Regions from separate parts of the Homo sapiens genome. Here regions 1, 3, 4, 5 and 6 are each reported to be linked to region 2. Evidence: microRNA targets listed by miRTarBase, many of them from high-throughput screens and not tested one by one. Region 2 holds a microRNA gene; each other region holds the end of a gene's coding sequence.
The links. Region 2 holds the annotated microRNA hsa-miR-4421 (ACCUGUCUGUGGAAAGGAGCUA, at 2,692-2,713, opposite strand). A microRNA usually pairs through its seed, bases 2 to 8, with sites in the 3' UTR of a target mRNA and lowers its output. Matches are read on the target gene's strand: a 7mer-m8 pairs with bases 2 to 8, a 7mer-A1 pairs with bases 2 to 7 and ends in A, and an 8mer does both.

Region 1 (5,167 bases), not on the chromosome of region 2:
CCTGAGGCTGAGGCTGAGGCAGAGAATCTTCCAGATGATAAACCCCAGCAGCCGACTCGACCCCAGGAGCAGAGTACAGGAGACACCATGGGGAGAGACCCTGGTGTGTCCTTCAAGGTAAATGAGAGATGGAACAGGTGGGCATGGGCTGGCAGGTGGAGACAGAAGCTGGGAGATTGGCCTTACCCACTGTCTATACTGTATTTCTCCAAGGCTGTTGGTCTACAACCTGCTGGAGATGTAAATTTGCCATGACTTCCTGGAGGACAGCAGCATGGAGAAAGATCCTAGAAAAGGTCAGACCCAACTCAGGCCTTGGTGTCCCTGGACTGCAAGTGTGGAAGGAGGGAAAGCCTGGTTTACCTCTCTCTGCATCTGAGCTCTGCTACCCATGGAGCAGATGGATGGTGGGAACAGGAAAGAGCTTATGTTACACCTCATTCCCATGCTTAGCCCACCCAGAGCTAACCCCTGTCTTCTTCCCCAGGCCTCTGACTTCCCTCACCTCCCAACCATCATTACAGGAAAGACTGTGAACTCCTGAGTTCAGCTTGATTTCTGACTACATCCCAGCAAGCTCTGGCATCTGTGGATTAAAATCCCTGGATCTCTCTCAGTTGTGTATTTGTTCATCTTCATATGCTGGCAGGAACAACTATTAATACAGATACTCAGAAGCCAATAACATGACAGGAGCTGGGACTGGTTTGAACACAGGGTGTGCAGATGGGGAGGGGGTACTGGCCTTGGGCCTCCTATGATGCAGACATGGTGAATTTAATTCAAGGAGGAGGAGAATGTTTTAGGCAGGTGGTTATATGTGGGAAGATAATTTTATTCATGGATCCAAATGTTTGTTGAGTCCTTTCTTTGTGCTAAGGTTCTTGCGGTGAACCAGAATTATAACAGTGAGCTCATCTGACTGTTTTAGGATGTACAGCCTAGTGTTAACATTCTTGGTATCTTTTTGTGCCTTATCTAAAACATTTCTCGATCACTGGTTTCAGATGTTCATTTATTATATTCTTTTCAAAGATTCAGAGATTGGCTTTTGTCATCCACTATTGTATGTTTTGTTTCATTGACCTCTAGTGATACCTTGATCTTTCCCACTTTCTGTTTTCGGATTGGAGAAGATGTACCTTTTTTGTCAACTCTTACTTTTATCAGATGATCAACTCACGTATTTGGATCTTTATTTGTTTTCTCAAATAAATATTTAAGGTTATACATTTCTTCTGACTTCCTTTATTTTCACAATCATTCAATTCATAGCATTTCCTATATTCTGTTATAATTATTTCATTGATTCATAAATTTCTTTGAAAAATAATTTGGTCTTCTATTGATTGTGAGAAGATAATCTAAGTTTAATTTGGTCAGAGAATATCATCTGTTTAATAAACTTTGAAATTTGGTGAGTGAATTATCTTTTTTACTGATAAAGAGTGATGTCATCTTTTTTAATGTTTCACATAGGTTTGGAAAGAATGCATTTTAGATTGTGTGTAGTATTTTCTATTAGATTATGTTTGCAATTTTTGTTTCAATTTATATCTTATATACTTAATTTTTTGTTGTCTGTCACCTGAGAGGTGTGTTCAAATCTCCAACTATGATAGTGGATTTGTGCATTTGTCTTTATAGTTCCATTTTCTTACATACTTTGCAGTTACTTTATTAAGGTATATGTAAATTTACATTTATATTTTTCTTCTGAACTGAACTCTTTGTGTGGTAGCCTGCTTCATCTATAGGCTAATGTGTTTAACCTTGAAAACTACTAGTTTTAATATTAATATAACTGTCAATTCTTTTGGTTACCCTTTGCTTGACATCCTTTCTCTTGAATTTCCATTCTTTTTTAGTTTCAACCTTTCTTTATATTTACCACTTGTATACAGCATTTAAAGGGTTATTTATAAAAAAAAAAAAAACTCTTGTCACATTTGTCTTTATGATTTTCTAGTTGTGTCAATTTTTTATTTGCTTTCTCTTGGCTTTTTATTTATCCCTTTCATGCCTTTTATTTTTTATTGTTTCTTCATGCTTTTTGTTGTTTGTTTGTTTAGAAGGTCTAATTTAGACCGGCTAGTTTAGCTTTCATAGTTAGCAATGTCTCAAGTTATTTAAAGAATTAAAGACTCTTCATCCTTTTCTTAATAAATGAAGCCTAAACAGCTGTAACCATTGATAGATCATCCCACTCTAAACTATTAAGGTATTTTTGTCCAGTTTATTACTTCTAGCCTGTTTGTGTTCTCATAAATTAATTTTTTAAATTATTTTATACAGTCAATGCTTTATTACTAATTTATTTACTATTTTTGCCCACATTATTTTTACATTTCAGAGCTTTCATGTGGAATACTTTTTCCATCTGAAATAAATGTCTCAGAATTTCCCTTAGAGTTTGCAGACTGTATAATGTTTTAAATTTTACTATGAAAATATTTTTATTTCATCCTTATTCTTGAGAAATGTTTTTATTATGTAGAGAATGCTTGGTAGGCAGTTTGACTTAACACATTGAAGATTAACTCAACTGATTCTCTGGTCATCTGGTTTTGATCCTTGATGATGAGAAGTCAACTGTCAGTTTAAAAGCCCTTCCTATGCATTTTTTTACCCAGTTAGTGCTTTTAACACCTGTATTTAGTGCTCTATAGTTTTACTATATTGTGAATAGTTTGGGACTCTGGTTTACTTATTTATTCATTCATTCTGCTTGCAAATAGTTGAGCTTTCTAAATTGCCACTCTTTCAACAATTCTGGAATATTTTCAGTTTATCTGTTTAAAAAACACCTCTTTTGTATTAGCTTATTCTAAAATGCCAATTAGACATCAATCAAATTTTCTAACTTTTTTCTTCATGTCATGCAAACTTTCTTTTGTAGTTACCATTGCTCTTTCTGAGATTGCATTCTAGATGCTTTTTCTATTTTAACTTTATATAGCCAAGCTATTGTTTTTTCATCAGTTTCTTAATTTTTGATCTTTGATTTTCATTTCAATAAGTTGTATTAGATCTCAATTTACTACTGCTTTTGAATATTTTCTTCTGGCTTACATTTTGAGCTTTTTAAATTTTTTTTTTTAATTCTTGATGTATTTGACTACATAGTAGGTATACATACGAGCTTATTTTTTATTATCTTAATATATGGACACTTCATTATCTTTTTTGGAAAGGTTCATAATATATAACTTTATTGGCCTATCTCTCATACTCCCTGTTTAATATAGTTCATGTAGTTTTACTTTGAGCTGCCTATTTTTCCTAAATTTTACCGTTACGGCCTGATACAAAATTGAGAGAATTTGTGTTAACTTCTGTCAATAGCTTGTGGGCATTACCTGTATAACTCTTAGAAATGTTAAAATGAGTGTTTTTAATGTTTTTTATATTTGTGTGCTATCCCATTTTTCATTCCTGTTGTTTATTTTCTTTCTTATTAGTATTTCCCAAAGGCCTTTTTTCTACTTTATATGTCTTTCAAAAACACAGGTATTGGCATTATTTTCTTTAATGTTGCTTTTAATACATTCTTTTAATTATTTTTTGTCTTTATTCCCTTCTGCTCTAATTTTTAATATTTGTAGGATTTTTAAAAATTAATATTTGATAATACATATGTTCTTTTTTATAGTCCAACAAACGCATTTACATATTTACATTTTTATTTGACCACCACTCTGAGAATAATTCATATATTTTAATACATAGGCTATTGATTATTTCTAAATAGATTATAATTTTAGTATTGATTTTATTTTAAATCAAGGAGGTTTCCTTTGTTGCCCTTGCCTCTCAAATGTATTTGTAATAGTGTTTAGTTCCTCAATGGATTTAAGATAATTTTGTTATTTTTAATGCACCAAATTTTGTAATCTTACTGTTACTTCTTTTATTCCATTTGCTTCAAATGGTATCACACCTCTGAATATTGTTCCTTAAAATTTATTAGTTACATATAGGCTTATGTATATGTGTAGTCATTATATATGTTCTTATAGGGAAGAGATTTTATCATTTTTGTTCATCACTAAACCCACAAGTTCAAGAAAAATACTGATAGAGGGTAGATCCACAAACATTGGTGGAAATGTAAATGGTTGCCAAAAATGAAAAAGGAACACAATGCATACAGGAGGTATTCCAAATTTTTAAGTGTGTCTTGGAAGTTTGTATGAGATTTCACAGAGGTAACACCCCAAAAAAATTTTACTTCTATATTATGACTTCTTTTGCATCTACTTTTTCCAAAATGTTATTTTTTTCTAACAGAGTTCTAAACATTGAAAATCATTTAACACATTGCATTCAGTATTTCTGATCATTTTTATCTAACCAGTTGCTAGGATCAGTTTCTAAAAAACAGCATGAGAGAGAAAACTTGTTCAAAGTACCCTCCTAAAATTATTAAGGTCTTCTAAATTTATGTGACTTATTCTATCAGGTAAATATTCTTATTATCCCAGATAGTGTTGGCAAAGCTAATACTGCACATTCTGTCTGTACAGTTTCGAAATTTATAAAACTAAGGTTTCATTTCTAATACTCTCCCCTGCCATAACAAGATGGGCATTTTCCGCTGCTCTTTAACTCTTATAGTGCTAAACTTGTACTTTTTGCAGCAGTGGTGATCAGTGAGGGTTTTGAATATCTCTAAAAATAAATGGCTTTCTTCCCTGTGCTACCAGTACATCATACAATACTAGGCGTATATATTTTATTGAAGTATTGTTTTTATGAGCTTGTTTTTCCAAAAGGGAATAAAATATCTACAAAGCGTTAGTGATAACATCTGAGAAGTTTCTGCTAACTCTGAAAATGCCGTAACTATTTACACACAATGTTAATTTTCTCCTATTTTAGAGCCTGAGGTTAATACACCTCATTCTTGTCTTACAGAATTTCTATAACTTGAATGTTTATGTCTCTTCTTTGAGCCTCTTTCTCTCTTTTATGTATAAGTTCTGAGATATGAATAGAATGTGAAATTAAATAATTTTATTTCATTATGATTCCCAGTCCAGTTTTTCAATGACCCTTTTTATAGATAGAACATTGGGCTCTGAGGAACTTCCTGTTTGGGTTTGTAATTCATTAATTAACAAACATGCCCCACTGATAAAATTTGCTCTTGAAACCCTGACTATCC
Region 2 (5,348 bases):
AAGAGAGAAAAAGGAGCAAAAAATATGCTTGACAAAATAATGGCCAAAAACTGCCAGCGTTTGATGAAAAACATTAATCTATACATCAAAGAAACTCAACAGACTCCAAGTATAGTTGACCCTTGAACAACATGGGTTTGAGCTGTTCAGGTCCACTTATATGGAACTTTTACTCACCTCTGCCATCCCTGAGATGGCAAGACCAACCCCTCTTTTTCCTTCTCCTCTTTAGCCTACTCAATGTGAAAACAGAGGGGATGAATTCCTTTCTGATTACCCACTTAATGAATAGTAAATATATTTTCCTTATTATTTTCTTTTCTCTGGCTGGCTTAATGGTAAAAATACAGTATATGATACTTATAACATTAAAAAAAGTGTTAATCAGCTGTTTATGTTGTCAGTAACATTCTGGCCAATAGTAGACTATTGGTAGTTAAGTTTTTGGGAAGTCAAAAGTTGTATGTGGATTTTTTTTCTACCCTCTTCTCACAGGTATGTATATGTGGATGTTTGACTAGTGGGGTCGGCACCCCAACCCCTCATGTTGTTCAAGGTTATACTGTAGTATAAATGCAAAGAGATGCACACCTATACACAACATAACCAACTGGAAAACCAAGGGCACAGAGAGTATATTGAAAGCAGAAAGACAGAAGCAGCTCATCATCTCTGAGGTATTCTTGATAAGATTAACAGCCAAATTCTTTCCAGTAACTTTATGAATATAAACTATTGTTATGAATATAGACTATCAGAATGATTCCAGCTCCATATAAAAATATTTATGGACCATGACAAAGTGGAATTTATTCCATGAATACAGGCTCAGCATACATTATCATATATCATATTAATAGAATAATGGACAAAAGCCAAACAGTCATGTCATAGATATGAAAAAGCACTTGAGAAAATTCAACACACTTTAATGATTAAAAAAACAAACAAGAAACCTGGAATAGAAGGAAACTTCCTCAGCCTGATAAAGGGCATCTATGAAAACACACTGCTAATGTCACTTTGTGGTGAAAGGCTTGAAAAAATTATCCCATCTTAGTCTGTGTTACTATTAATATAAAGGCATACCTGAGGCTGGGTAATTCATGAAGAAAAGAGGTTCATTTGTCTCACGGTTCTGCAGGCTGCACAAGAATCATGGCATTGGCATCTGCTTCTAGTGAAGGCTCCAGGCTGATTCCACTTATGGCAGAAAGTGAAGAGGAGCTGGTATATGCATATCATATGGTGAGAGAGGAAGCAAGAGAGAGACTAGAGGAGGTACCAGGCTTTTTTCAACAACCAGTTCTTGTGGGAACTAAAAGTAAGAACTCACTCTCGTGAGAATGGTACAGAGCTATTCATGAAGGATCCACCCCCACAACCCAAACACTCCTACCAGGCCCCATCTTTAACACTGGGGATCAGATTTCAACATGAGACTTGGCAGGGCCAAACAAATCATATTCAAACCATAGTACCACCTAAGATCAGGAATAAGACAAGGACGTTCACTCTTACCATTTATATTCAGTGTTGTACCAAGGGCTGCATACCCATCAGTCAGAATCCTTGTGTCATGGCATCCTCCAGGTGTCACTTTTCCAGTTGGAAACCTCTGTGGCCAGTGGTGCCTTTGCCAGAGTTTTGCTCAAGCCTGCTGGGCTTGTTCCACCCACTCGGCCTGGCAGGCTGCACTCAGCTCATGCTACTGGCCTGGCTCCCACACCTTCAAAGAATGATCCAGGCATGGAGAGGAGAGGGGTGCACAAGTAAGCAAGCATGGGGTCTGGCTGCTGCACACAGCCAAGCATTGGCTGCTGTGGTGGGGTGGGCAGTTCCAGGTGCCACCACAGGTGCTGGCTCTGTTCAAGCCTGTGGCTGGATCAGATGCACTATAAGTGGCTTCTGCTCTGGGCACTCACATCTGGACAAGGGGAACATGGTGGCACTTGGAAGCTCCAAGACACTAGAAACCACAGAGCCCCAAAGAGGGTGTCACAGCCCTGGCTGGGGGAGCCTGTGCATCTGAGCTCCCTGAAGGGCTGCAGCTCTTCTCTCCTTCTCATTGCCTGCAGTGTGACGAGTGGGGTGGAGGCAGGTGTTTTAGCTCTGTTTGTGTTATAGCACTTTCAGTCCCACCATTCAACAGGTCCTGAATTTTTGTCCTGTGTCCAGGAAGAATGAGGTATGCAGAAAACTGGAGGGTGAGCAAGGCAGAAAGGAACTTTCTTGAGCAAAAGAGTGACAGAACAGCTCTTGGGAGACCTGGAGTTGGTAGCTCCTTTCCACAGGCAGGTCATCCCAACTAGTTCAGCCCTCAGTAGAGAGGAGCCCCAGATTGGGTAGCTCCATTTCACAGGCAGGTCATCCTGACAAGTGTCCAGCTCTCTGGGGAGAGGAGACCTGGAGTGGGTAGCTCCTTTCCATAGGCAGTTAGTCCTGACGAGTGCATCCCTCAGCAGAGAGGAGACCAGAGTGGGCAGCTCCTACCTGCAGGCAGGTCATCCCAACAAGTGTCCAGCTCTCAGAAGAAAGGACACCTGGAGTGGATAGCTCCTTTCTGCAGGCAGGTAGTCCTGACGAGTGCAGCCCTCAGCAGAGAAGAGACCCAGAGAAGGTAGCTCCTAGCTGCAGGCAGGTTGTCCAGATGAGTGTCCAGCTCTCAGGGGAGAGGAAACCCAGAGTAGGTAGCTCCTTTCCACAGACAGGTTGTCCCAACAAGTGTTCAACTCTCAGCAGAAAGGAGACCCAGAGTGAGTAGCTCTTTTCCACAGGCAGGTCATACTGACAAGTAGAGGAGACCTGAAGTGGGTAGCTCCTTCCTGCAGCTGGTAGTCCTGACATCTGTATGAGTCTAGCTAGGTAACATAGTTTTTATGGGCTCAGAAAGGAAGAAGTGTGTTCTGATTGGCCCATGGGTGGCCATGGGCGGGCCTGGAAAAAGCACCATAAGTTCTCACTCCAGGCCGCAGACTCCACCTGGAGCTGACAGCCCAGCCCCCAGGCTTCATGCCATCCATGGCTTGAAGGTTGCGTTTCACTGGGAACCTGCCCCTTTCTGCCCAGGAGCCTGTCTGCCTCCTGTCACCATCAACATGTTGTCCATGCCGCCCAGGCTGTTCATGCTGAGGTTTGCCTACAGGCCCACACTGAGCCACCCTGAGCAACCCCTTGGTCTCCCTCTTGTGCTCTTCAGTTCCCAAAGTCTGGATGGCCTGAGACAGCAGGGGGCTGGCATGTCAGCACTGCCCTGAGTGCTTGGGTACCCAGCTGGGTCACAACAGTGCCTGGGCTCTGCCACAACTTTGCTCTGCCCCAGAGTGGGGGCCAGGAGCAGGGAGAGGCCAGGCAGTGGGAGCAGGCACTTTCAAGCCTACGGGAACAAAGGGCTTCCGGGGCCCCTGAGACCTCAGGGATGCCTGGGTCTGTGGCTACAGCTGAGAAGCTGCAGCTGTGCCTGGGAGCATGTGGCTCCTGCTCCACTGACTTGTTAGGGGGTGGGGCTCCCACCTGTTCCCGGCACCCGTGGGCTCAGCAGAGTGTGCAGCCCCAGTTGTGCTTCCCCTGCTGAAGCCGGCATCTTCACAGTGGCTACTCCAGACAGGCCACTGCTGCCATCACTTGCACCAACCTGTAGGTGACAGTCTTCCTCCATGAAGCCAGTTCATATGCTCTAGAAGTTACTCCTCCATGAAATATGCAAAGAAACAGCCCAAGGCTACAAGAAATACGCACACACGAAATCAAAGAAACAGGACACCACCAAAGGAACACAATAATTTTCCAATAACCAACCCCAAAGAAATGGATATCTATAAATTGCCTTCCAAACAATTAGAAATAATTGTTTTTAAAGAAGTTCAGCATGCAATAGGAGAACACAGTTGGACAACTCAGTGAAAACAGAAAAAGAGTCTACGGCCATACCACCTCGAACATGTCTGATTTCATCTGAAAACAGAGAAAGAATACATGAACAATACAAGAAGTTCAACAGGAAGGTAGAACTTATAAAAAAGAACCAGGCTGGGAGTGGTGGCTCACACCTGTAATCCTAGCACTTTGGGAGGCCAAGGTAGGCGGATTGCCTGAGCTCAGGAGTTTGAGACCAGCCTGGGCAACACAGTGAAACCCCATATCTACTAAAATACAAAAAATTAGCTGGGCATGGTGGTGTGCACCTGTAATCCCAGCTACTCAGGAGACTGAGACAGGAGAATCACTTGAACCTGGGAGGCAGAGGTTGCAGTGAGCTGAGGTCATGCCACTGCACTCCAGCCTGGGTGACAGAATGAGACTCCAACTCAAAAAAAGAAAAAAAAAAAAAAAAGAAAAAGAAAGAAATTCTGGAACCAAAAAACCTAATGACTGATATTAAAAACACAATAGAGAACTTCAAAAATAGACTTTATTGAGCAGAAGAAAGAATTTGTGCCCTTGAAGACAGGTTATTTGAAATTATCCAGTCAGAGGAGAAAAAAGAATGAAAAAGAGTGAAGAAAATTTATAGGACTTATGGGACACCATCAAGCAAACCAATATGTGCATAATGAGAGTACTAGAAGAAGAAAAGCAAGAGAAAGAGGTAAAAAGCTTTTTTAAAGAAATAATGGGTTAGGTGCAGTGGCTCATGCCTGTAATCCCAGCACTTTGGGAGGTCGAGGCAGGTGGATCACCTGAGGTCAGGAGTTAAAGACCAGCTTGGCCAACATGGTGAAACCTTGTCTCTACTTAAACTACAAAAATTAGCCAGGTGTGGTGGCAGGTGCCTGTAATTCCAGCTACTCGGGAGGCTGAGGCAGGAGAATGACTTGAACTTGGGAGGCAGACGTTGCAATGAACTGAGATTGTGCCACTGTACTCCAGCCTGGGTGACAGAGCAAGACTACTTCTCAAAAAATTATAATAATAATAATGATAATAAAATAAAATAAAGAAGTAATGGCTGAAAACTTCTCAAATTTTGAGAGGGAAATGGATATCCAGATTCATGAAGCTTACAGGTTTTCAAAGAGGATCAATTCAAGACTATACCAAGGTACATTTTAATCAAATTGTCTAAAATAAAGGACACTGAAAGAATTTTAAAGCTGCAAGAGAAAAGTAATGCATCACATATAGGGAATCACCATAAGACTATCAGTGGCTTTCTCATCAGAAACCTTGCATGCCGAAGAGAATGGGATGATATATTGAAAGAACTGGAAAAAAAAAACTACTTACCGTGAATCTACATCTGGCAAGATTATCCTTTAAAAATGAAGGGGAGATGAATTCTTCCTTAGACAAACAAAAACAAAGGGAGTCTGTCACTACTAGCCCAGCCGTAAAAGAAATGTTTAAAA
Region 3 (5,348 bases), not on the chromosome of region 2:
TAAATGTTCAATGTGATGGATATGCTAATTGTTCTGATCTGATCATTATATATGTATCAAAACATCATTATTTACCCTGTAAATACGTACAATTATATGTCAATTAAAAACTTTAAAAAGGCTGGGTGCAGTGGCTCACGCCTGTAATCCCAGCACTTTGGGAGGCTGAGGTGGGCAGATTATGAGGTCAGGAGATTGAGACCATCCTGGCTAACACAGTAAAACCCCATCTCTACTAAAAATACAATAAACTAGCCGGGCATGGTGGCACGCGCCTGTAGTCCCAGCTACTCAGGAGGCTGAGGCAGAAGAATTGCCTGAACCCGGGAGATGGAGGTTGCAGTGAGCCAAGATCGTGCCACTGCACTCCAGCCTGGGTGACAGAGCGAGACTCCATCTCAAAAAAAAAAAAAACAAAAAAACCCCACAAAAAACCTTTAAAAAAAAAAAAAGCTAATATAAAGCCTTTACCTTAAAACTCTGAATTTATCTTATTCACTTTTTACCCTTAGAAGTTTATGAACTTGCAAAGGCAGTTGAAAACTATGGTAAGTCTTCAAGTCCCAGCTTTATTAAATGTAAGAGACCAGCAAACTTTAACCTAAATTTTAAGAATTTTAAGAAATATTTGGAAAATACTATTAGAAAAATAAAATTATTTGATATCCAGTAACAGTTAATAGCATTCTCTGTATTAAAAAATTACTAAAGGGAAATGGGTATGTCTGCGGCATGGCTGAGAATGAGTAAGATCACACACAGCTTATCTGCTCAACAAATCCTGAATATATCAGACAGCCCATAACATTGCTATGAGAAGTCTGATTCAAATGCTTAGCTGCTATAGTTAGTTAATCTGGGACTCAAAGGACAATATACCTGGGTCAGGGACTGAAAATCACCAGAAGAATTCTACAACAGCCTTTCTGCCTACCAATAACACCTATAGAACTTGACTGGAATCTAACCAGAAGTGTGTTTCATGTCCAAGTATGCTGCTATACATACAAGCTACCTAGGCTTTTAGCTAGAAAAGTTTAGACCATAGAAAATGATACAGGAGGTGCGGTGGCTCACGTCTGTAATCGCAGCACTTAGGGAGGCCGAGGCGGGCAGATCATGAGGTCAGGAGTTCGAGACCAGCCTGGCCAACACAGTGAAACCTCGTCTCTATTTAAAATACAAAAAAATAGCCGGGTGTGGTGGCAGGCGCCTGTATTCCTAGCTATTCGGGAGGCTGAGGCAGGAGAATCGCTTGAACCTGGGAGATGGAGGTTGCAGGGAGCTGAGGTCTCGCTATTGCACACCAGCCCCGGTGACAGTGTGAGACTCCGTCTCAAAAAAAAAAAAAAAAAGAAAAGAAAAGAAAATGATACAAGAAGAAAAGGAAATTCCTTATTCCTGGATTACAAATGAACAAAGGAAACACAATCCAAGGAAAGGGCTGTTGGGGGCACAGAGCCTGGGAAGTGAGCAGCCAGAGCTGTGGAGTTATTTCCCTCCCCTTTTTTTAAAAAGCTCTGGATTGAGAAATTGGAGGGAGGTGGGAAGGTGGGTATGGGGGATGGAGACTCCAGCTGTGCAGCCTCCATTCTGAGAGCTGCTTAGATAAGGTGCGCAAAGCCAGGCATTCCTAGGCTAGCACTGTCAGGATATGATTTGTATCACTTTTGTTTTCACATTATCTGTCTCTTGAGGAAGTCACTGCCTGTCTGCTTTTCACTCTGTACCCTGGGTTTCCCTGATAAGATAGGCAAACTTCCAGCATTACAGAGATTGTTAATCCCCTAGCTTGTGCTTCCCTAATACAAATTGTTTTTTTAAGAAACCCTCAAATTTGTGTTCTAACAATTGGCATGTTTTATACATCTTGACCTCATATCCAGGTTTAAAGGAGGTGAACACACTGGTTCTTAAAGCTTCCCTCTATCACAGACGCTCCTAAATAAGCTATCTGTGGTAATCTAGCCCTGTTCATCTTGCAAACTGAGTTGCTGTATAATTGTATCCAATGTTTGTGTTTAAAAAAATATGACTCTTACACCGGGCGCAGTGGCTCATGCCTGTAATCCTAGCACTTTGGGAGGCTGAGGTGGGCGGATTGCCGGAGCTCAGGAGTTTGAGACCGGCCTGGGCAACAGGGTGAAACCCTGTCTCTACTAAAATACAAAAAATTAGCTGGGCATGGCAGCGTGCACCTGTAGTCCCAGTTACTTGGGAGGCTGAGGCAGGAGAATTGCCTGAACCCAGGTGGTGGAGGTTGTAGTGAGCTGAGATTACGCCACTGCACTCCATCCAGCCCAGGCGACAGAGCGAGACTCTGTCTCCAAAAAAAAAAAAAAAAAAGAAGTATGACTCTTTACCACTGCACTCCCAGTGCTAGTATCAAAGAAAGATAAGAATCATAGGATATTTACGGGTACTTGGTAGATTCCATATTTTGTTTCTATTAGCACTAGAGGAAATCACAGAATGATAACAGGGGTACTTCTCTGAAAACTGGGCGCTACTACTGTGACTCTGACAGGGTACGTAAGTAGAGGATCTGCTCCTGCGCAGCACAACAGCTAAAAGGGTAACCTGTGAGGGTCAGTGCATTAAGAATCTATAGAGGGAGCAGGGATATCTGCGAAAGAAATCTTTCTTTTTTTTTTCTTTTTTTTTTTTTTTTTTGAGACGGAGTCTCGCTCTGTCACCCAGGCTGGAGTGCAGTGGCGCGATCTTGGCTCACTGCAAGCTCTGCCTTCTGGGTTCACGCCATTCTCCTGCCTCAGCCTCCTGAGTAGCTGGGACTACAGGCATCCGCCACCACGCCCAGCTAATTTTTTTTGTATTTTTAGTAAAGACGGGGTTTCACCGTGTTAGCCAGGAGGTCTCAATCTCCTGACCTCGTGATCCGCCCACCTCGGCCTCCCAAAGTGCTGGGATTACAGGCTTGAGCCACCACGCCCGGCCAGAAATCATTTTTTTCTTTTCTTTTTATTAATTTTTGAAGTCATCATTAAGAAATCAACTTTAAATTGAAGAGAAAAGATGGCAGGATGTCAGGATTTTATTTATTTATTTGTTTTTTTGAGGCAGAGTCTTGCTCAGTCACCCAGGCTGGAGTGCAGTCGCATGAGCTCAGCTCACTGCAACCTCCACCTCCCAGGTTCAAGCAATTCTCATGCCTCAGCCTCCCAAGTAGCCAGGATTACAGGCATGTATCATCACACCCAGCTCATTTTTGTATTTTTAGTAGAGACAGTGTTTCACCACGTTGGCCAGGCTGGTCTTGACCTCCTGGTCTCAAGAGATCCACCTGCCTGGACCTCCCAAAGTGCTGGGATTACAGGCGGAACCGCTGTGCCCAGCCCTGATGTCTGGATCTTTAGTATATACATATATAATTTTCTTTCTCTTCCATTTCCATCTTTATCAAGAATCTAAACACTTTCCAGGTCCCAGGCAACCAAATGGCAAGAAAAGCTCAGAAGTGTTTTGTTTGGTAGGTAGCTAGTGTTGCTGGAACCTGGACTGTGGCTGACTAGTAAGACTGCAGGACACCAGTGCCCCTGAGGGCTCATATGGCTCCAGTAGATATGCAGGATCTAGAATAGGTAGGGAGGAGTTACAGAAGGTATGTATTGGCCGCCCACAATCACCGAAAGATGAATTTTTGCATAGGCAGAGACCTTGGTAATTAGCTAAAAATACAGGCATCACACAAACTTCTTATGATATTGGGTTGATCTCAGCAAAAGTATAGAAAGGGAAGGACTTGAAAGAAGAAGTGAATTTTCTATATGTTTAAATGTGTTAACTGGAATGCATGGACATGTGTAACCAAGACCTTTATGTTTAAAAATTAAACTTGCTCTGATCATTAATTCTATAGAATTAATGTTACCAAAGCTGCAGTAACATACTATTCAAAAATTCATTTTCCCAGACTTCTAACTACTTAAAACAAAAAACCCCCCACACACAATTACATACATTCACACAGCTGCTATGCTCCCAAATGGAATGCATATATTAATGCACACACAGAGACACTCAGAAAGCACACGTGCAGGGCTGCCAGAAGACACCCATTTTGAACCTGAGGTGCATGTGGGCCGCAGTGAAGGTCAAGAAGCCTGGCTGCATATCTGTTCAATGTCATTCATCTCTTTGGGACAGTCTGCAGAAAGGATGAGAGGTGAGTCCTGAGTCACCACTACATCATCCTCAATTCGTACACCAAGACCCCGAAACTTCTCTGGGGCATCTTTGTCATCCTCTGGAATATAAATGCCTGTGAAGTAGAAAGAAGAACATGCTGTTCAGGAATGATAGTAACTGGGTGGTTTGGGGCAAGTAAGTTAACCTCTGGGTTAAAATTCCTTCCTCTGTAATACTGGATCTTTATGGTACCTACCTAGTAAAGCTGTGAGGATTAAATGAGATAATACATGTCAAAGTGGCTGGCATATAATGGTCAACACATGTTGGTATCATTACTAAAATTATTATTGTGGTTATCTTTATATTGGACTACAAGCTAAATACAACTACGGCAATGCTGATCATGATTCTGTCATATTCTAGTGGCTCAAGCAGGCCAATAAAGTTACTTAATTTAAAAGTACGTCAATATATGTGGGGGACAAGCAGATTATGTAAGTGCATTCTTCCCCTGCCTAAGAGTCCCTTGGAAAAAGAGCACCTTGCAAAAATAAAGACAAAATATATTTAAACTGTATTCAAAGAAACATTTAGAGATTATTAGCCTTGACAACTGGAAGCTGCAGAGACAGTCATTATAAGATTTAAATATATCTGATGTGTGTAATATAAAATACAAGAGAAACTGAAAGACTTTAATGTACATTTGGAAAAATGTAGGAACCCCAGGTACCCTTTCTAATCATGAAGTTAGACACATACCAGGGCTTTTTATATTAAACAAGTTGTAAACTTCCTCCACTATCCTCACAGATACTGCTCTGCGATTGAAAAAGAAAGATCAGCAAAGGAAAATGTAGCGCAGTCTAAGGAAGCGCCCATGTACCAAACAGATTGAACTAAATGATATATCTATGGCCACAGATAGCAATGTATGACTAGGTTCAAAGGGTGGCATAAAAGACATTTCACAGCCATAATTTATACAGAGATTAAAATACTTGAAATCTAAAATTTAGATCTGTTTTCAAAACAAAACCAGCATCAGTATTTAACCATCAACTCTGACAACATCAATCTTCACACACCATTGTGGTCACTGCTTCTCTTCAGAATCCTGCCCAACACCCAGGACCATTCAAGTTAGGTAACGTATCCGATTGTTAGCTTTCTCTGAAGCTTATGAGGAAGGCGATGGA
Region 4 (4,221 bases), not on the chromosome of region 2:
CGGAAGAGGGACCAGAAGCGCATCGCAGCTCAAAAACAGGTGCTGGCAGGGCTCCTCATTGGGGACAGATAGGTGGTCATGTGGGGAGCCAGCAGGCCCGGGCTTTCACCAAGTTCTCCTTGGCCCAAATGGTCCCATCCTCCCCTGCTTGGCCCAGGTCAGTCGACGGGCATTCTGCTTGGGCACCGTGCCCTGCTCTGGTGGCTGCTGTGGGCACCCTGGGCACTGTGGGTCAGCCCAGACCTCAGGGTCCATGCAGGCTGGCAGGGTGGGGTGGCGGAGGCGTAGCTGAAGGTGCCAGAATCCCAGCCACACCCGGGATGCAGGGATCCCACCCTCAAACAGCCCCTTCTCTAGGAGGCTTATGCATCCAACTGGAGATCCCGGCTCGCCTGCTTCCTAGTGGGGCACAGCCCTGGGCAAGAGGCTTCACTGCTTTGAGCTCTGGGTTCTTCCTCTCCAGTGGGGACCACAGGACCTCTGATGGCGAGGTTGTGTGGGGTCAGTGGGTAGCTGGCACCCATGCAGCCCTGAGTCCGTGCTCTTTCCTCTCTTCCTCCCCAGGAGCAGTTCAAGGTGGACAGGGAGGGAGGCCTGAACACTGTGAAGTACCATGTGGCTTCCCGCACTGCCCTGTCTGTGGGCGGGGCCCCCTGCACTGTCCTCAACATCATGTTGGACTGTGACAAGACCGCCACACCCTGGTGCACATTCAGCTGAGCTGGATGGACAGTGAGGAAGCCTGTACCTACAGGCCATATTGCTCAGGCTCAGGACAAGGCCTCAGGTCGTGGGCCCAGCTCTGACAGGATGTGGAGTGGCCAGGACCAAGACAGCAAGCTACGCAATTGCAGCCACCCGGCCGCCAAGGCAGGCTTGGGCTGGGCCAGGACACGTGGGGTGCCTGGGACGCTGCTTGCCATGCACAGTGATCAGAGAGAGGCTGGGGTGTGTCCTGTCCGGGACCCCCCCTGCCTTCCTGCTCACCCTACTCTGACCTCCTTCACGTGCCCAGGCCTGTGGGTAGTGGGGAGGGCTGAACAGGACAACCTCTCATCACCCCCACTTTTGTTCCTTCCTGCTGGGCTGCCTCGTGCAGAGACACAGTGTAGGGGCCATGCAGCTGGCGTAGGTGGCAGTTGGGCCTGGTGAGGGTTAGGACTTCAGAAACCAGAGCACAAGCCCCACAGAGGGGGAACAGCCAGCACCGCTCTAGCTGGTTGTTGCCATGCCGGAATGTGGGCCTAGTGTTGCCAGATCTTCTGATTTTTCGAAAGAAACTAGAATGCTGGATTCTTAAGTGATATCTTCTGATTTTTTAAATGATAGCACCTAAATGAAACTTTCAAAAAGTATGGCAGGCCAGACAAAATGTGTCGTGGACCGCTCACATGTCACTTTTGGCTGAGGGGCAAGGGGACGGGTGAGTTACAAGCTGGCAAGGAATTGGGGTGGGGCGGGGACGACAAGTCCAGGGGGGAGGAGAAGCCAAAGGTGTGAGGGTTCCTGTACTACCTCCACCCCACCAAGGCTTCTGGGCAGCCCCCGAATGCCCTTCTGAGCAGTCTTACCACCTTCAGGCTCTCTCTGGGTAAGCTTCCTCCGGCCTCACTGAGACACGGAGGAGGGAGAGTGGCTGAGGAGATTCACCCACAGGACTGGAGAGAGGCAGGCAGGGCACTCAGCCGGTGCCTCGGGTCATGGCTTGAGTGGGGAGGAGAAGGGGAGAAGTGGGAGGATCCCTGTGGTGTTCCCTCAGCACAGAGGGATTACAGTGGTCACTGAATGCCCAGGAGCAGTGAGAAGACATGAACTGGGGAGTGCTCTTGGGGGAATCACTTGGAGGGAAGCCCAGAGCCCATGAGAGTGGGAGGCAAGGGACCCTGCATGTAGGCCACTCCAAGGCATTTGGCTGCCAAAGATGCAAGGCAGAAGGCAGAGGAGACCATCAGGCCCCAGTAATGTGGGTTTGTTTTAACACCAGGACACCTGGAGTCCTGAAGGAAGGGATTCCTGAGCACCATCCCAGAGCTCAGGAAGGTGGAATCCACAGCTCTGGTTCAAAAGACTTCTCTGAGGATGATCAGGGCTGCTGTGTGCAGTTGTGTGGGTTGCGCACTGTGTAACCTGTGTATAAGCCGAGGGATTTAAGCAGAAAGGGCTGGGGTAAAGCTTCAGGTTCAGGTGTTTAGTCCAGGGTCTTTGTGATCCTAAATTGACCTTCCCCATCGATTCAGCCACACCCACTATTGTGATGGGCAGACAGGCCTCGACTCTAGTGCAGGGGTGGTGGAGAGGGGACTGTGCCAGTTCCCTGGACAATCCCAGCTGCTTCATCTTGGACTGACATGGACACCAGGCAGTAACACCAGCTCTTGGGAGTTGGTGGGAACAGGTGTAATATCAAAGCTCCCAGCTCTGCACTCTCCTGTCACATAGGAAGACCTCAGAAAATGGAGGTTCCTTCCTTTCCACCTGCACTGGGGGAGTGCAATGAGCAGAAGAAAAGCGAAGGTCCCTCCACCTTCTGAGATCAGCTGACACCTGAGCTTAGGTGCATCCCTAGCCCTGCAGCCTGTTGCTTCCCTTGACCGCCACCCCCACCTCCATCTTCAAGGCTGTGCTGGGCACTCCAGGCTGGGCCTGACGCGTTCCAAATCTGCAGCTCCCCTCACTCTGCATCCTGGGCCTCCACCACTCTCCAGGAGAGTGGGAGACGCCTGAGCCATGGGTGGCGAGAAGCGGCAGTCCTGTGCCGCCTCAGTGCCCCACTTGCCTCCTTCGTGGAATGGACTTGACATCCCTGCCTTGCTGGCCAGGGCGTGGCCGAAACCTACCCAGGATGTAGGAGCACCTGGCACAGCGCTTGGCCAGTGAGGCGGTGGTTGCAATAATAATAACCATCCCTTGTTGAACATTCACCAGATAACCAAATTCTCCACACCGCATTTCACTTAGGCCTCCCTACCTAAGAGCTGGGTCCTAATTCACTGGTTCTGTACATCAGGAAGGCAAAGCACAGACAGGCAAGTAGCTTGCCCAAGGTCGCAGAGCTGTAAGGGATGGGGGGCTGGGATTGGGAACCCCTGGAATCCACTTTCAGAGCCAGGTTTCTTCCCCTTTGCCCTGTACAGCAGGTGCCCATGAGCAGGTGTTCCTTCCCTACAGGCCTCCCTCCTCTCCCCTGCTGGAAAGGGCAGATGGGGAGGGCTGAGAGGAAAACAGGGGCATGGTGGAGATGCAGAGGATCTGCCTCAGGCTCCGCTGCCTCGAGGAAGACAGGGATTCTGCTGCTGGGTGCTGAGGAGCGCCGATGGGGCATTAGTGGGACCCAGAGTGTGGCACTGTAAATGAGAGCTGTGTGGAGTGCTTGGGGAAGGCTTCCCCGAGGAGGCAAAGTCTTGCTGGTGGAGAATTTGTCAGCAGGAAAGGGAAGGGATCATCATGTGCAAAGGCAGGCAGCCTGGAGCCAGCATGTGTGTCAGGTACCCAGGAGCAGCTGGAGTGTTCCTGGCACCCACGATACTGTGCAGAAGTGGGGAGGTGGGCAGCAGAGGGAAGGCTGGGGTGAGTCATGAGGATCTGTGAATGCCACACTAAGCAACTTGTACTTTATTCTAGGGGTGCAGGGGCTTTGAGAAGTTTCAAGCATGGGAGAACTTTTTTTGTTGTTCTTTTTGAGACAGGGCCTCTCTCACTCTGTGGCCAAGGCTCGAGTGCAGTGACGCGATCTCGGCTCACTGCAACCTCTGCCTCCCGGGTTCAAGATTCTCCTGCCTCAGCTTCCGGAGTAGCTGGGATTACAGGCATGTGGGACCACGCCTGGCTAATTTTTTGTATTTTCTTAGTAGAGAGATGGTTTCACTATGTTTGCAATCTGCCCGCCTCAGCCTCCCAGAGTGCTGGAATTATGTGTGTGAGCCCGGCCAGGGGAGAACTTTTGAACACTTACCTGTGTTCTATGACACAGATCCTTTGGGGGATAACAAAGATCCTTTGGGGGACCCAGGGTGGACTGCAGGGTGGAGTCTGAGGAAGGAGAGCACCCAGTCCAAGGGAGAGATGGTGAAGCCAGAATGAGGCAGGTGAGTGGGCGTGGGGATGCTAAACCCCCAGAGCCAGTAGGAGCCCTCCCTAGCAGGATCAATCAGACGCCATCAGGCCTTCCCTTCACGGAGGGTCGACTCCACTGCAGACTGTTTCCCAAAAGGCCAAATGGAC
Region 5 (5,262 bases), not on the chromosome of region 2:
CGCCCCCTGCCCGCCTCGCCTGCCCGGCCCTGCCCATCACCCGGCCCTGCCGCCGCCTCCAGCCCAGCCCGGCCGCCGGGTTTGCAACGCTCCAAGTCGGACTTGAGCGAGCGCTTTTCTAGGGCAGCCGCTGATCTCGAGCGCTTTTTTAACTTCTGCGGCCTGGACCCGGAGGAGGCGAGAGGGTTGGGTGTGGCCCACCTGGCACGGGCCAGCTCGGATATCGTGTCCCTGGCAGGGCCCAGTGCTGGGCCGGGCAGCTCTGAAGGGGGCTGCTCCCGCCGCAGCTCGGTGACTGTTGAGGAGCGGGCCCGGGAGCGCGTTCCCTATGGCGTGTCGGTGGTGGAGCGCAATGCCCGCGTGATCAAGTGGTTGTATGGGCTAAGGCAGGCTCGGGAGAGCCCAGCAGCTGAAGGCTAGGCGCCACTGGGCCTGGAATTCGCCACAGGACGGATCTTACAGAGGCAAGTGGTCCCTGGACCTCTCTTGCATCCATTCTCTAGACGGCCGTGTCAGAGGCTCCACCCTGTTGTGAACTTGGTATGGAGGCAAAGGCTTAGAGGCTGGACCAGCATTGTTGGGCAAGGACTGACTCTCCAAGGGTTTTGTTCTTGGCTTTGGACACCTGAGAACCCCCTCCTCCCCTCCCCCAATACAAGGTTTTTGACATGAGTGTACTCCTGCTTAGTTCCTCTTGTGGGGCTGCATTTGCGGTGCTTTGCCCTCCCCACTGTGAGTGAGGGGCCAAGGGATCTCCTCAATCCTGTCTCCCCAGCGGCTCTGTTTCCTCCTTCCTTCCTTGGCCTCTGTCCTTTGCTGACTTCCTCTTCCTTACCCAGCAGAACTCACCCTGGGGTCGGGGCAGTGGGGAGGGGCCTATCCACTGCTCTTCCTAGTCCTTGGCAGCTGGCCTAGGTGGGCAGACTATAGGAGGGACTGGTTAGGAGTCTGCATTGCTTTGACTTCCCTCTCCTTGGTTAATAAACACAAATGCTTGTTTCTCAAGGGCTGGGCCTTCAGACTCTTCTGTGTTCACAAGAGAAAGGGTGAGAGAAGTCTTGGGGTGGGGCCATCAAAACAGTAATTGTTCACCCCGAGGTCTAGTGGTGGGGCATGATGATAGCGGCTGGCCTGGCTGGAGACATGTCCCCGTGGTGGGTTCTCATAACTCTCCTGGAAGGCTAGCAGGCCTGCCTCATCGAGGAGGAAACTGAGATCCAGCCATGAGTGAGCTGGAATAGAGCTGGGAGTAGGAATGGGGTCTTTCCCCTGCACCAGAAAGGGAGCCTGCAGGGGAAAGGCCGATGGGGTGCATAGACTCTCCCCAACCAGGAGTGTTCCATCCAAGCCCTGCCCAGTTCCCAAGGGGGCAGGAAGCTCGGAGAGGGCAAATCCTGAACTTGAGGTCACACAGACCATAGAGTGAGGATGAGAAGTGGGAGTTTTGGAGGAAGAGAGACTTGGGGTGGACGGCACAAAATGAGTGGCCTCCCTGGCGATCTTGGACAAGCCAGTTTCCCTCTGGGCCTCAGTGGGAGAGTTAGGCAGCACAGTCCTCCTTGGGTTGGGGCACTGGTGCATTCTGGGCCCTTCATGCTATATTCCAATACCTGGGGAGAGGGGAAGGAAGGGGCTGGCACTGGGCTTCGAGGCCTCAGCTTCTTCCAGTCTCCCTCCAGGTCAGTTACCTACTAGGACACCCCACCTTGGCTAGTGGAGCAGCTAGGGCTAGAGCTGGGCCTACAAAGGGCGAAAGCGGGGGTGGCCTCTCTGGTGCCCCACGGTGGGCGTGGAGAGGGGGTGGGTGGCGCTTCCTTTCACAGGCTGCCTTGGCTGCAGCACTCAGAAACAGGAAGCTCTAATGGGGGCCCTGGTGACAGGTTTGATGTAGGTTTTATTTTAAGCATAAAGAGGAGATTTCCGTTGGACTGTTGACAAACATCCACATCAGCCCAGCTGTCCATCTCTCTGTCTGTCTGCCTGTCTACAACTAGCCCCCAGGGGCCTGGGATGGGCCTGGGCAGTTTGGGGAAGGAAGGGAAAATTGGGTTCTAGAAGAAGATGGTGTTCCAGCTCATGAGACTGGAGCTCATGATACTGGTGGGGAGACAAGCATGAGGAGGGTGGTGACCTACCCACAACCCCCCATGGTGCCCAGCAGTTTTGACAATGCAGGAGCTGGGCCTCCAGGGTCCCCATGCTGAAGGAGTGATGGTGTCAGGAGAGAGAATCCAGGCAGGATCTGCAGACGTGGTGCCCTTTGAGGTGTCAAAGACTAGATTTCCTAGGCAACCCTGCTAGAATTCAGGGCTAGTCATTGCCCCTTGCTGTGACCTGGCAGCCTCCGAGTAACCCAAGAAGGTGGATGGGCTGGCTGCATTTTACATGTGAAGAAATTGAGGTTCAGGTCACAGGACTGGTGGGTGACACCTTGTTTCTGAAGGAGGGTACAGTGCTTGAATCCTCAAGGTAGCCTTTTGAGGACCAGATATATTGTCAGAGCAGGAGGTTGAGCTCAGGGAAGGATAGCGACTTGTATACTGTCACATAGCAGGTCTGCAGGACAGCCTGGGGTCACACTCTTGCCTGCCAGACACATCGCAGTCTGGATTCCTGGTTCTCCCAGCATGTACCCCACCACTCTTCCTCATCTTGGCAGCCTTTTCTTCTGGTCACTTTATTACTGAGCATCTACTGGGTGCCCAGCAGTGGATAAGACAGACATGGCCCCTGTCCTAGTCTGGAGAAGAGAATGGGCAACTAAACATTCAGCACATAAATAATCATAGAATGTAAAGCAGGTATACTTAGGGACTTCTGCCCTAAAACCAGAGCTGTTCCCAGGAGCTGGACCAGGGGATAGCTGAAAAGAGAACGCCTTTCCATAAATCCACTGGGAGGGTCTGTTGGGGAGAGAGCAGGGAGGGATTCTTGGAAGTGGGGAAGGTGCCAGATTGAGTCTTCTCCAATGGTTATGGCTTGGTCTTGGGAGGGCTCCCCCTGTTCCAGGATTCTGGAGCCTCCCGCCTTCCCTGCAGGCCTCTGTGGAGGGAGCAGGGCGGGGGGCTTTTGCACTCCTCCCTCCCCCAACCCTGCAGCCTTGGGGATCTGTGGAAACAGCCCCTCTATTGTTCTGCCTCCAGTTGGAGTGTGAGCCCTCGGAGGGCCTGCAGCTGCTGCCCTGTCTCCTGGGGCTGCCCAGCCCTCCGAAGCAGCTCCCCCAGGCCAGCCTGGCCCCAGCTGCCTAGCCCCTAATTAGGCAGAGATGGGATCTGCTCTCTGATCCATTTCCCACCAGCTAATTATATACACGTGGATTTGGGAACCAGGCAACCTGGCTGCTCACTTCTATCATGAAGGTGGATGGGCCCTGGGAAAGGCAGCCCCCCCCCCACAGACCTCAGTTTACCCTTTTGGCAGAGGATGGAGTGTAGCTGCAGAGGCCTGTTCCCTGTCCTTGGTTAAATAGTTCTGTTCCTGCTACTGAAACATTTAAGGAGACCCCCCACCCCCATCTTACCTGATATCCTGTGTACAGGGGACCAGGAAAGGGTTGAGGAATTTGGCTATAGGTCCTTGACTCTAGGACCCCAGGGTAGGGTCATAGGATATAGATGAGAGCATGGCTGCAGCTGGCTGCCAATTAGATGTGCATATAGGAGGGCTTACAGTTGTGCTGGTCCATCTGGGTGGCCTGAACACCCGGCCGGGTGCGGTGGCTCACGTCTGTAATCCCAGCACTTTGGGAGGCCAAGGCAGGCGGATCACTTGAAACCAGGAGTTTGAGACCAGCCTGGACAACGTGGTGAAATCCCGTCTCTACTAAAAATACAAAAATTAGCTAGGCATAGTGGCGGACACCTATAATCCCAGCTACTTGGGAGGCTGAGGCATGAGATTCGCTTGAACCCTGGAGGTGGAGGTTGCAGTGAGCCAATATCATAGCACTGCCCTCCAGCCTGGGTGACAAAGAAAGACTCCCTCTCAAAAAAAAAAAAAAAGGAGTGAACACCCCATCCAGGTTTTTAAAAAGGTAATATTGGTTGATGGGTACAGCAAACCACCGTGGCACATACATATCTATGTAACAAACCTGCACATTCTGCACATGTATCTCAGAACTTAAAGTAGAATAAAAATAAAATAAAAGGTAATATTATTTTTCAGATAATTCACTCATATATTTCTTCCAACATTTTATTAAGAAAAATTTCAAACATAGAGTTGAAAGAATTAGACAGTGAACATTCATATACCCACCTACTAATGCACACTTGTTAATATTTCACTATATTTGCTCTATCAGGAATCTACCCATCTCTCCATCCATTAATACAACTTATTTTTTTAATACAACTTATTTTTTAATAAAGCTTTTCAAATTAAGTTGCATATATCAGTACACTTCCCTTAAAGTCACTTTAGTGTGCATGCCATTAGCTAGAATTCAATATTTGTTTGTCTTGTTCCTCTCTAGGTAACATTTACATGGAATGAAATGCACAGATCTTAAAGGTGCCATTTGCTGAATTTAGACAAATGCATACTGTACCCCAAACCCCTATCAGGGTATCAAGCATTATCACCTCAGAAAGTTTCCTTGCATCGCTCTCCTGCCGATTGCTGCCTGCCCACCATGGACATATTTTTATATCCATATATATCAGTACTAACAAGCAGCATCCCTTGTCCTTTCCTCTACATCAGCCTCGCTCCCCAAAAGCAACCACTTACAACTTCTTAAACTATTTCTTCTGGTACTTTCCTCCATATTTTTAAATAACTTGCTTTTCCTGCTGTTTTCTTGATCAATTTTAGGCATACACACACACACACACACACACACACACACACACACACACATATATATTTATTTTTTTTTTGAGACAGAATCTTGCTCTGTTGCCCCGGCTGGAGTGCAGTGGTGTGATCTTGGCTCACTGTAACCCCTGCCTCCCAGGTTCAAGCGATTCTCCTGCCTCAGCCACCTAAGTAGCTGGGACTACAGGTGTGTGCCACCACGCCTGGCTAATTTTTGTATTTTTTGTAGAGATGGGGTTTCACCATGTTGACCAGGCTGGTCTTGAATTCCTGACCTCAAGTGATCCACCCACCTTGGCTTCCCACAGTGCTGGGATTACAGGCGTGAGCCAGTGTGTCTGACCAATTTTAGGCACATATTGACTGACTTTCTGGTCTGATGTTTTCATAGTGTGGCCTCCACTGCCTGGCTGCCTGGCTTTGGATCCCAGCCCTTCCTCT
Region 6 (5,348 bases), not on the chromosome of region 2:
AACACGGTGAAACCCCGTCTCTACTAAAAATACAAAAGATTAGCTGGGCGTGGTGGCACACACCTGTAGTCCCAGCTACTCGGGAGGCTGAGGCAGGAGAACTGTTTAAACCCAGGAGGCGGAGGTTGCAGTGAGCCAAGATCACGCTACTGTACTCCAGCCTGGGTGACAGAGGGAGACTCCGTCTCAAAAAAAAAGAAAAAAAATTGCTTCTCATCATCTTCGTTGTCCTTTTTTTTTTTTTTTTTTTGAGATAGGGTCTCCCTATCGTCACCCAGGCTGGAGTGCAGTGGTGCCATCTCGGCTCACCCCAAACCTCTGCCTCCCAGGTTCAAGTGATTCTCCTGCTTAAGCCTCCCAAGTATCTAGGATTATAGGCGTGTGCCACCATGCCGGATTATTTTTGTAATTTTAGTAGAGACTGGGTTTTGCCTGGTTGGCCAGGCTGGTCTGAAACTCCTGACCTCAGGTGATCCGCCCGCCTCGGCCTCCCAAAGTGCTGGGATTACAGGCGTGAGCCACCTTGCCTGGCCACTCATCTTCATTTTCTTAGGCAAAACAATAATAACACGTAGTCCCCAGATTTTAAAGGTTAGCTTAAAGAGCCTGTCTCTCATTTTAGGAATGTGTGGGTTGTTCAGATTCTGGTGGGTGACCTGTATGTGTGTGGTCTTTATTTTGTTTTTTTTCAGCTGCCCGTGGAGCCCCACCTCTGCCACCCATTCTCAGGTGAAGCCTGGCTTGGTCCCGTTCCTCAGGAAAAGGATGGACCTTCTCTTCTTCTCAGATGGTCCCTTCCATTCCCCTGAAACCTGCATGAGAGCTCCTAACATGTTTCTCCAATGCAATCAAGCCCTAGACTCCAAATGTCCTCCCAGCTCACCTCCATCTATGCATCTCATCTCTGGATTTGGTGATCAGACTCTATATTGACAGTAGGATCTCAAACCCTGCATCCATCCTTCCTCCAGCAAGCCCTGCTAGCCACATGAGGAACAAGTTTCCGTGTCTTCTGCCTTCCTCTTGGGGAAAGGTGCCTTGTTGTGATGAATTAACTCACTGTTAGGGCAGGGTGGAGAATGGTACTCCTTCCTTCTCCTGTCCACTGTGGGGGAAGCTTGGCAGGTATATTATATTTCATCATTTAGGAGGCTGGCATGACCAGGACTTATGGGTGGGAGGGGAGCATTTTTAGTGAAGCAAGAAAGGAGTTTGCCAAGAAGTGATCTGTTTTAAAGGTCATATTTGGAGAAAGGGCAAGGAATTGGGTCTGCTTTATTTTTGGGGGTATTTTGTTTTTGTTCTCACCTGCTGCCCCCCCACCCCACCACCCCAGGGATAAATTGGATATAAACACTAAATACTAATCAGTTGAACTTAACATTTAATAAAAAGAAAGGGTGAAATAAACTGAAGACCATTTTAGAACTAGTCAGTTCTCTGCAGCAAAGGGAACAGGAGCCATTTGAACCCTCTGGGACCCCTCACCCCACTGCTTCAGGGTGCTAGGCTGAGGGATGTTTTTCCTCCCCCTTACCGCCCATGCCCTTGAAAGAAAAGTCACTTTTTGTGGAGGGCATCATTCATTCCTGATTCACAAACCCCAAAAACCTCTGGTGGGAGATAGGAAGATAGGGCGTGGGCCTGGGCCTTAACCTCAATCTTGTGTCTGCCTCAGTCTTTTCTGACTGGCCCTGAAGTTGTCAGTGGCTCTTTCTGTCCTTCAGCCCCTGGAAGGTGCTCCAGGATAACAAAGAAGGGCAGGTTGAAGCCCCTCATGGAAGGAGCTGGCTTTGTGGGGCTGCAAAGGACTTTTAAGTCCTGCCTGTACTGAAGTTCACAGCCCACCTGACTGAGCAGACTCTTCCTGTTCCTTTCTCTACCACCCTTGCCTTCCCAGGACTGCACGGTTTAACACAGCAGAGTACAGAAGGGTGAAGAAGTGAGCAGAGGCTTATGAAGATATTCAGATACTCTTCTATGCCAGGAAGCACAAAGACTTTGTTGAGATTTGCCTCAGTTCAGTAGATCTTCCTTGGCAGCCAGCCATAGGTTGTTTCTTTGTCTTCCGGGTCCTAAAGAGCACAGAGAAAATGGAGGTCCCCAGTCTAGGTAGGAAGCTGATTGGATGAGGACTTCTTTTTTTCCGACAGCAGGATGGGGCTCTTGGGCTCCACACACCAGATGCTTTGGTTTTCTACAACTGTTGCTATGTGTAGAGGGTGCTCAGAGCGTGGCATGAGAGCAAGGAGACCATGGCTACTCTTTGAAATGGATGGGGAAAATTAGCTTAAAAATTTAATCACGAGATTGCGCCACTGCACTCCAGCCTGGGCGACAGAGCCAGACTCCGTCTCAAAAAAAAAAAAAAAAAAAAAATTTAATCACACACATCACAGGCTTAAACTGTCTTAGAGACCTTTCCAGTTGATTGGATCACAGGCTAGGGATCTGTGCATGGTGCCAGGTGAAACCCAAGTCTCCCCAGTGCTAGGTGAGGGAGGGCTCAACGGGGGTAATGTGTATGGGGTCTGCTGTCCTTTGCCATCCCCTGGACCATATTAACTCTGGGACAGACCATGATTAGGTCTGTCACCAAACTTTTCCTAATCATTTTTTATGTATCATTCTTCTTTCTAATCTGTTAGCAGTTATCTCCCAGAAGTATCCCTAGCATCCTGAAGCAAACAGAACTGCCGGGCGCTGTGGCTTATGCCTGTAATCTCAGCAATTTGGGAGGCCGAGGCGGGCGGATCACCTGAGGTCAGAAGTTCGAGACCAGCCTGTCCAACATGGTGAAACCCCGTCTCCACTAAAAACACAAAAATTATCTGGGCGTGGTGGCATGTGCCTGTAGTCCCAGCTACTGGGGAGGCTGAGGCAGGAGAATCGCTTGAATCCAGGAGGTGGAGGTTGCAGTGAGTGGAGATGGCGCCACTGCGCTCCAGCCCGGGTGACAGAGTGAAACTCCATCTCAGAAAACAAACAAACCAAACAACTGAGAGAGGGCATGCTAGTGGAGGGAAAAGGAGAGAGTACAAGAGTTGATACTGCATCAGAGTTCCAGGGCAGATACTGACAAGTGACTGAACTTTGACTGTGAAGTCTTCCCATTTATTTTTGAAATGGGAGTCGATGCCTTTTGTACGTTATCAAAGTGTTTTTTTTTTTTTCCTCCTTTACTCAGACATAGAGCATCAAAATATCACGAGTAAAGCCAAACCCCAGCTTTTCACTGGGGCTGATATCTTCCTCCCCATGGCCCACTGCCCCCTCATATTCCCCAGCACTTGGACTGTGTCACATGGGTATTGATTGTATACTTGTTGTCTTGGCCTCATGCAAAAAGGCCTGGGTCTAGATCTAGTCAGATGAGTTTTTTTTAGAGCATGTTGATGATACAACACCTGTTTAAATGTCTGCCTTATATGTTATTTGGTCCCACTGTTAATAATAGATTTATTACTATGTATATTTACTATTGAAGATGGGAATGTGATCTGCATAGTTATCAGTCTATTTTGTATGTTGTAAAAAGCTTCTAATTTAGGTTTAAGGTGGGCTGGCTACAAGAGCACTAAAACTCCTCACCTTTTAAACTGCTCTTTTTATCTGCTTGTGGGAATGTCGTCTCTTTCGTGGAAGATTGGGTGGTCTCATGTTGAGGCTGTTGCCCAGTCCCATTAACTCCCTTGTCCCCCCACAGAAGGAAGAGACATTGCCCAGCTAAGCATCAGGAAGCTGTGTTAAAAGCCCTTCTATGGGTTTGGTTTTGTGATGTTTTTCCCTAATGGGAAAAACGTTATAGTTGTTTCTTACTGCCCTGTCTGGGAAGCAGGGCAAACCTCCAGGTTTTTAAATGAGCTAGATGCCCCTCTTCCTCTTCTCTGGTCACTGAACCTGGACCAAAGCACTTTGATATTCCAGGTGTGATTTTCTCTGTCATGGGGATTTGCTCCACTGCAGAGCCCCATCATTTTCACAGCGTAGGCCAACAGAGTGAGAACCTAGGGCTACCCTAGCTGATGGATGTGAGGCTGCTGTCTACAGGAGCTCATCCCAGCCCTGTTAACTGGCAGTGGCAAGGATACTCGTCATCGGCCATTGCACTGGGGAACTCCCTCACCCCATGGCTTCCCAACTTGAAACCCAGATTTACCTCCAGGGAGAGGTGAGAAAAAAATTGTAAATAGACTTGCTAAAGAGCAACTCAGGGTTGGGGTGTGTTTTAATTCTCCTGATCACTTGAAATAATCTGTAGGCTGAGTGCTTATGGGGGTGGGGGAGAAGGGTGACTCCAGGGTCCTTCCATTTTGTGAAGCTCTGGGGGTGGAGTGTGGGCATCTGAGGCCCTATGATGGCACTACATTGAGCTGTCTGCCCTTCCGGAAACCCAACCTGCAATCAACTGCAAATCAAATTCTTCACATTCCAGCTACAGTCTTTCTTTCCCCATTGAATCTCAGTCCCTGGCCATGTGGTCAAGGTGGCTTTCTGTTAAGCTACCCTAATTTCGGGAATGGGAGGGGAGAGAGGAGGGCCATTACAACTCTGCCTTCAAGACTCATCTCTTAAAAACAAAACGAAACAAAACTACAACCACCATCAAAACCACACGCAAAAAAAAAAAAAAAAAAAAAAAGGATAACTTTAACCGAAGGAAGGGTTTGGTTCCATTCAACTCCACATTCATTGTGCCTTTACTTGCATTAGATTTCTGTGCTTTCTTCCTTTCCCTCTTTGAAGCAATTAAAATCTTCCTTGATAACTGCTGTTTCTTTCTACTCTTGTTTCTGGCAATTTAGTGGGTTCCTTCTCTAGTGGTCTTAAATCTCATTCCACTGGTGGCAAGATGGGGCCTAGCCTTCTTTTCACATGTCTAATCTTTTCCTTTCTCATGGTGCCCTCCATGGAAGTCACAGTCAACACTGAATAAATGACTAGAATGACACGTGTGCGTGCGCACGCGTGTGCGTGTGTGTGTTCATCTGTCTGCATGTGGATCAATTTCTTTTAGAAAATAATTTATTGTATGATTTATTTTGGAGTTATATTCTGATTACAGTGCTCCCTCTCCCAAATAGCATTGATTTTTTCCCCCCTCTAAAATGTATAATCTGGTCTCAGGTTGGATTCTTTGGTACATTTCTCTCTTCTGGATGCCATGCAGCTTAATTAAAACCTTGCTTAAAAACAAAAAGTGAAAATTGTGTACTCTTGTCTGGAATACCGCCTCAGGTGGTGGCACAGAGAGGGGAGAAAACCTTTGCCTCATAATTTGGGTAAGTGTAGTGGTTTGATTCCAGGTCCCTTGAAAAAGTAGATCTACTGAATTGGGCAGACTCATC

Region 1: miRTarBase lists ZWINT as a target of hsa-miR-4421. Seed matches in the 3' UTR shown: 7mer-A1 at 689-695.
Region 3: miRTarBase lists XPNPEP3 as a target of hsa-miR-4421. Seed matches in the 3' UTR shown: 7mer-m8 at 2,150-2,156 and 7mer-m8 at 1,708-1,714.
Region 4: the mRNA of B4GALT7 is a reported target of hsa-miR-4421. Seed matches in the 3' UTR shown: 7mer-A1 at 805-811.
Region 5: miRTarBase lists FAM110A as a target of hsa-miR-4421. The part of its 3' UTR that is shown has no 7-base or 8-base seed match.
Region 6: miRTarBase lists WIPF2 as a target of hsa-miR-4421. The part of its 3' UTR that is shown has no 7-base or 8-base seed match.

What each region holds. Positions count from the first base shown.
Region 1 is chr10:56,353,506-56,358,672 of GRCh38, reverse strand. ZWINT (ZW10 interacting kinetochore protein) reads left to right here. Exons shown (of 9, transcript NM_007057.4): 7 at 1-117; 8 at 214-296; 9 at 488-1,446. The coding sequence ends at 255. Among named protein-coding and RNA genes, the nearest start is that of ZWINT, 5.2 kb to the left of the region's middle.
Region 2 is chr1:51,057,244-51,062,591 of GRCh38, reverse strand. MIR4421 (microRNA 4421) reads right to left here and starts at 2,755; the gene lies at 2,687-2,755. MIR6500 (microRNA 6500) reads right to left here and starts at 2,574; the gene lies at 2,489-2,574.
Region 3 is chr22:40,925,200-40,930,547 of GRCh38, reverse strand. XPNPEP3 (X-prolyl aminopeptidase 3) reads right to left here. Exons shown (of 10, transcript NM_022098.4): 10 at 1-4,279. The coding sequence ends at 4,113. Among named protein-coding and RNA genes, the nearest start is that of RBX1, 24 kb to the left of the region's middle.
Region 4 is chr5:177,608,976-177,613,196 of GRCh38, forward strand. It overlaps B4GALT7 (beta-1,4-galactosyltransferase 7), which reads left to right. Exons shown (of 6, transcript NM_007255.3): 5 at 1-39; 6 at 565-1,355. The coding sequence ends at 720. Among named protein-coding and RNA genes, the nearest start is that of B4GALT7, 11 kb to the left of the region's middle.
Region 5 is chr20:845,273-850,534 of GRCh38, forward strand. FAM110A (family with sequence similarity 110 member A) reads left to right here. Exons shown (of 2, transcript NM_001042353.3): 2 at 1-1,005. The coding sequence ends at 420. Among named protein-coding and RNA genes, the nearest start is that of FAM110A, 14 kb to the left of the region's middle. RefSeq lists enhancers at 1-43, 1,272-1,331.
Region 6 is chr17:40,277,493-40,282,840 of GRCh38, forward strand. It overlaps WIPF2 (WAS/WASL interacting protein family member 2), which reads left to right. Exons shown (of 8, transcript NM_133264.5): 8 at 693-5,348. The coding sequence ends at 733. Among named protein-coding and RNA genes, the nearest start is that of CDC6, 7.7 kb to the right of the region's middle. RefSeq lists enhancers at 3,554-4,490, 4,491-5,348.